Linked DNA regions of Homo sapiens: region 2 is reported to be linked to region 1. Evidence: microRNA targets listed by miRTarBase, many of them from high-throughput screens and not tested one by one. Region 1 holds a microRNA gene; the other region holds the end of a gene's coding sequence.
Evidence for each region. Region 1 holds the annotated microRNA hsa-miR-5192 (AGGAGAGUGGAUUCCAGGUGGU, at 2,223-2,244, shown strand). A microRNA usually pairs through its seed, bases 2 to 8, with sites in the 3' UTR of a target mRNA and lowers its output. Matches are read on the target gene's strand: a 7mer-m8 pairs with bases 2 to 8, a 7mer-A1 pairs with bases 2 to 7 and ends in A, and an 8mer does both.

Region 2: miRTarBase lists CBL as a target of hsa-miR-5192. The part of its 3' UTR that is shown has no 7-base or 8-base seed match.

The regions. Positions count from the first base shown.
Region 1 is chr2:62,203,660-62,206,899 of GRCh38, forward strand. It overlaps MIR5192 (microRNA 5192), which reads left to right and starts at 2,167; the gene lies at 2,167-2,258. All of the region lies in intron 1 of B3GNT2 (UDP-GlcNAc:betaGal beta-1,3-N-acetylglucosaminyltransferase 2), which reads left to right.
Region 2 is chr11:119,299,324-119,302,323 of GRCh38, forward strand. It overlaps CBL (Cbl proto-oncogene), which reads left to right. Exons shown (of 16, transcript NM_005188.4): 16 at 172-3,000. The coding sequence ends at 458. Among named protein-coding and RNA genes, the nearest start is that of MIR6756, 12 kb to the right of the region's middle.

The DNA.
Region 1 (3,240 bases):
ATGTGCCTGGTGCCTTTGGAGAGGGAGAGGCTGAAGATGGGGGAAACAGTGGAGATTGCTATTGGTGCAAGACCCCAGAAGCAGCAAGAGCTGTCACAGGGAGTGGAGATCCTGGGAGTTGGGGGTCAGGGACTGGCTGATGTAGAGAACTTGAAGTAGGTTTTGGTCCCAGAGCTGACATCAAATGTCTTTGTAGCTATGGCAACCCACTTAGCTCCTGTTTCCCACCTCCCTGCAGAATCGCATGAAACCTGCACAGCCAATTTCACATGTTTATTATTGGAATCCATTGAACTCATGAATATGAAAGTGTTAATGCTCTGGGAAGATATTTCTATGGACCATAAACTTGCTGCAGTTTATTTGTGCTTCAGAATTTTTTTTGAGACAGAATTTCCCTCTTGTTGCCCAGGCCGGAGCGCAATGGCATGACCTTGGCTCACTGCAACCTCTTTCTCCTGGGTTCAAGCAATTCTCCTGCCTCAGTCTCCTGAGTAGCTGGGATTACAGGCATGCACCACCATGCCTGGCTAATTTTGTATTTCTAGTAGAGACAGGGTTTCTCCGTGCTGGTCAGGCTGGTCTCGAACTCCCAACCTTAGGTGATCCACCTGCCTTGGCCTCCCAAAGTGCCTGGTAGAAATTTTTCTAATTGTTTATTTTCTTTGAGAAGCACTTAACATCCAACTGGTTCTCCAAAGTACTTCTTTTTTGAGTCTTGATCAGGGAATAACACAATTGTGGTGAGTTTTATGTGCATGTGTGTTTTTAACCCTCCAGGTCTGGCTCTAGATTGTTCACTGGGAAGCCGAATGATATTTTCAGATTCAAATATATTTGTCTAATAATGAAAGGGTCGAAGTGTTACAAATGCTATCCTTTCTAAATAGTCAACATTTGGAACTAGTGAGATATATTTTTACCTTTATTATTTTATGGTTGTCTTTGAAGCTTGTTTATAAGGAACTTTTATGTAACTTTATTCTTGAGATGCAGCCATTATATTTTTGTTCTTTTCCTTTACCACATAAGGAATTATTTCCTTCAAATGAACTTAAAATATCTCTCATGAATACTCCTATTTTTAACTGAATGTTTCTCTTTTTTAAAAAACTTTTATTCTTCAAAGTTCTGATGGATCGTCTTTTTTTAACTCTTTATAATGGAAATTTTCAAACAAGTGCAGATACAGAGAATGGTATCATGAAGCTTCAGGTAGCCACCAGCGGCTTCAGGGTGATGATTCTTTATTTTCATCTCTACCCCACTCACGACTAGGGGCCCATGGGCACCATCTAGAGAGGGAGAGAGAAGAAGGTCACAATGGACCACAGAGTGGGCAGCCATCAATTTAGAGATAGCGGAGGCTGGGGGAGAAGATTGGACGCCCCCAGGGAGAGTGACAGGCAGACCGGCGAGATTGGAAGCCCGTGGCACTGGGATTGCTGTGGTCCCTCGTCCCTCCACATATGTGATCACCTATGGTATATGAAGGGAACGTGCAGAGACTCGTTTAAAACTGAGGTGACTCAAATTGCTTGGTAAAAGAGGCCCAGTTTTTAAGCAGTTCAATAGTGCCCACATATTGAGCAAACATGTTCTCTTTTTACTGTGGCGACAAAAACTTTTCTTGGCGGGTGGCCGGAGAAAGCTATGTTACTATTGCACTTCTTTAAATACGGAAGCAAGTCTTGGTCGAAGGCCTGAATGATGCCTCCCCTTTTATAGAACATTTGGATAAAAGGCCAAAGTGTTACTTTTTTTTGAGGATACGTATTTTAAAATGTATATGGTTTATTTTGATACTTAAAAAGCAACAACTTGAAAACAACAGTCCTGAAACACTTGTCAGTAAGGTGTTAGGATTTAACCAGCCTTTGAGAAAGGGAGAAGAGGCGGGACAGGAATCCGAGATGGAGCAGGGAGCTGGTTTGCTTCTTTGCCGCCTTGCTCTGAAGTTGCCACCCAGGGTCACACATCACTAGAAGTGTTTTCCTCTGGGAGGAGGATGATGTCTGACTGTGGAGAAGAGGCAGCATCCCAGAGGGAGCCCAATTTAACTGGATGCTCAGTGTGAGAGGAGGAGCGCTGGCATTTAGTGGCTGTGTGCCGTGGGCGGGGCCTGCCAGCCCTTGGCTGTCATTTGCCACCTGAGGGACAGGCTGCTTAGTTCCAGCCTCCTGGCTCACCTGGAACCATTTCTCCTGGGAAGCATGGTAGCCAGGAGAGTGGATTCCAGGTGGTGAGGGCTTGGTACTCCTTTTGGGGGATCCTGAGTGCCAGGAGAAGAGGATGAAATCGATGGACTGGGGGAATCAAGGCTGTCCTCATGGAAGAGGAGACAGGATTTGAACCTGGGCCTTCAAGGATGGGGGTAAGGATGGAGAGAAGCAAGATAAGGGATGTTTTAAGCCAGGAGAAACCAGGCTGAGAAGAGGTATGGGTGGGGAGGATAGTAGTTGTTGTTAAGGGGTGCTGGTGTCTAGAGGCCTCCGGGATGGGGTTTTAGGGGTGGCCTGCCTGGATCAAGGATCAGCTTGGACGTGCTCAGCGAGGATGGGGATGCCCATTTCCCTCCATGCAGCTCTGGGCTGGGGGCGGCCCATCTGGGTTCTCAGTTCCTGCCCTCTCCCTCTACTTTTTCTGGGAACATCAGACAACTTTCTGATCCTGTGAACCAGTTTACTTCTCTGTGAAATGAAGACACCTCAGTCACCACTTGACTGTGTATCCAATTGCGCCCATGGCATATGGACAAGCCCTCACTCAGCTAATGGGTGGGCACTAGGTGTGCAGTGGTTAATTTGTTTTATTATAAGGAGTGTCCTTGATACCTTTATCTCATTTCTCTATTTTTTTTCCCTTCCCCAAAGTGTTAGACCATGCACTTTAATCCAACATTATTTTTATATGTTTTTTATTCTTGTAGAGACAGGATCTCTCTCTGTTGCCCAGGCTGGCCTCGAGTGATCCTCTCACTTCCACCTCCCAAAGCACTGGGATTACAGGTGTAAGCCACTGTGCCTGGCCTAGTACAACATTATTTAAAAATCTCTACACATGTCTACTCTGCAGAACTTTCTGCACTCTTTGTGCCTGCTTTTGGAAGAGCGAGTCAGGCAGTTCTCTCCAAGCTGCTACCCTACAAGACTCCAAATGGATAAGCCAAGGAGTCCTGCAGTCTGAGGTTGTAGTACCTCACTTTCTGGTGTCCCCTTCGCTGTAACCAAGAGCATATTC
Region 2 (3,000 bases), not on the chromosome of region 1:
AGGCTATATCTTAAAACCCTTGAACCTGTAAAACCCAGCCTTGTGACTGAAGAGCACATGTACCCAGTTTACAGGAAGTCAGTAATATCTTGATATTAGCACATTTTTATTGCTGTTGTTAAATGAGGATTTCCCCAGATTTGCAAATATTTTCTTTCCTATTTCTTCTAGATGTCACTGAAGGTTCCCAAGTTCCCGAGAGGCCTCCAAAACCATTCCCGCGGAGAATCAACTCTGAACGGAAAGCTGGCAGCTGTCAGCAAGGTAGTGGTCCTGCCGCCTCTGCTGCCACCGCCTCACCTCAGCTCTCCAGTGAGATCGAGAACCTCATGAGTCAGGGGTACTCCTACCAGGACATCCAGAAAGCTTTGGTCATTGCCCAGAACAACATCGAGATGGCCAAAAACATCCTCCGGGAATTTGTTTCCATTTCTTCTCCTGCCCATGTAGCTACCTAGCACACCATCTCCCTGCTGCAGGTTTAGAGGACCAGTGAGTTGGGAGTTATTACTCAAGTGGCACCTAGAAGGGCAGGAGTTCCTTTGGTGACTTCACAGTGAAGTCTTGCCCTCTCTGTGGGATATCACATCAGTGGTTCCAAGATTTCAAAGTGGTGAAATGAAAATGGAGCAGCTAGTATGTTTTATTATTTTATGGGTCTTGAGTGCATTTGAAGGTGTCCTTCAGTTCCCACGTAGAGAGAGTGTGGATTATATTACATGATAACCTACCTGGGGAACAGTCCAGAAAGCTATAGAACAAGTATTTTGCTGGAAATCCTAATTGAGGACTTAAGACTTCCTGGGTTAAGGATGTGGCCGTGTGTGTGTGTGTCTGCCTGTGGTTGTATGTGTCCTTGTGATTATAAGATTAACCTGCTGTGTGTGTTAATTCCAGGCAGGGAATTAGCACAAAAGGTTTAGGAAGGAATCTTTTTTTAAAGACTTCCATCTACTGTGGTATTATACCCAAGCCTAGTGTGTATTACAACTTCAACACTCCCCTTTGGCTTATATTACCATGTGCATAGCTAAAGTCTTCTATTTTTAGAACACCTTCTGTCTGTTCTTTCCCCATCAACTCCTTCCTCATCCTTCTTGGTGTTCTGTCATGGGCCATGGGCTTGCTATGGCCAGCCTTACTGAGGCCAAGCAGCTTATGGGATGTTCTTTATTGTGTGTGATGGTATTGGTTTGTTTGGTAGATAAGTGGGAGGAAAAGTACTGTTGCTACACTATTATAGGCATGTTTGATACTAGCAGCTAACACTGGTCACTCCAAAGCACTGTTTCTATAGGAACATTGAAGCTATTAAGATGTTTTGATTATCCTAATTACATAATGACCGATTTGAGATAGAGGCCTTTAAATACATTCCATGCCCTCCCCAGAAAATAGTCTGTGGGAGTCAGTTGCCTTGGTGCCAGGTATGTGTTCTGATGTAGGTCATGAGTCTTTCTACTTAATGGGAAGGGAAGAACATTTGTTTCCAGGATGACTTTCTGGCCAGAATACCGGAAAGCTTTTAGGAAGCTTCGTTCACATGCTATTTAAATGCACAAAATAGACAGTAAGGATTTATCTGTTCAGTTTTTCTTCCCAGTGAATTAATTTCAGCTTATATGGGTGTCTTCATTTGAACATGAGGAATATTAGGTTATATTTTCAGCAGTGGTTTTTTCCTTTGCCCTTTAAGGAGTGGGGATAATGTCCACGGTGGCCCAGCCTCTTGCTGATGGCACCTTCCCTGCATTGCTGCCTCCCGATGATGTGGTTCTTTTCTTGTGCCTGTGGCTTTGGGAATGTAACATCTCTTTCCTCCTTTCCTTCCCTTTTCCTCTTCACCTGAGGTCCTAAATACTCTCTGTAATTACTGTGTTCTTCACGGTAATTAGACATCATTCAGTGAATAAATTACTGTAGTCAAAGACAGTATGGGCTGGCAGTTTGTGTAATTGCAAGTTCATAAAGAGAATTGAGGGTCCAGTTGGGAGAACTATTAGTCAGTTCTTTTATATGCTGATAAATGATCCCTCGAGTTCAGTTAGTATTCTGTCCAGAGTGTTTAGCTCACTTTCTTAGCAGTGTGTAAGCTTTCTCCATGTCAGAAGCAAGCCTGCTCTTTGATAAATCTGTCTTCCTGAAAATCTAAATCATGCTTTTGTCTTTAGATCTACACAGAAATGACCCTCCTTGGATCAGTTTTCTTTCCAGTCTAATCATCTTTGGAACTAAAACTTGTTCTAACTCGTCTCTTGGCATTCAGCTACTCCTAGATCTTTTGGTTTTATCCCCTGGCCTCAGAGCCATTTATATTCCCAGAGTAGGCAGTACAGGATCTCGTGTTGATTTGCTGTGGTTACCCAGTGTCTTCTCTACATGGCATAAAGCGGCAAAGCCCACCATTAGGTGAGGCGGTCCCGAGTTGAGGTAGAGTGGGGCAGAGGAAGATGGCAGTGAATATCAAACAGTAGACCGCCATCAACTTCTAACAGCCAGTACACACACTGTTTCATTTTGAGGTAACGTTCAGTTTTGCATTTTGTTTAAATATTGAAGGCCTAGACAAAGAACTAGAAAAAAAAAAGCAGTTTCCAGGCCCATCCATATTGTAATTTTTCTTTATCTGCAGATATTGCCTGTAGTCTAAAGATCTCTTTGGAAGACAAAGCATTGGCTATATATCTTTTGCCTTTTCCATGCATCTAAATCTTCTCTGGAGATTATCTCCCTACTGTGTAGGTTAAGGGCAGTCTCGACTTTTCCTTTTTTGAGTCCTGTGTGGCTCTTTGAATCAGCGTGAAACTGAGGCTCCAGCTCCCTGTGTTGTGTGTGTGTGCCATCCATGGGCTTGGGTGTCAGTTTGTCACAGGTATCTGCCAGCATTCAAGGTTTTGGATCATTTCATGAGGATCTTTCCTTTGACTGGGTGCTGTGAGGACACACCTGGGTCTGTGCCTGAGATTGCCAGGCAAGATTAAGGAAAGTTTTCATGTGGCT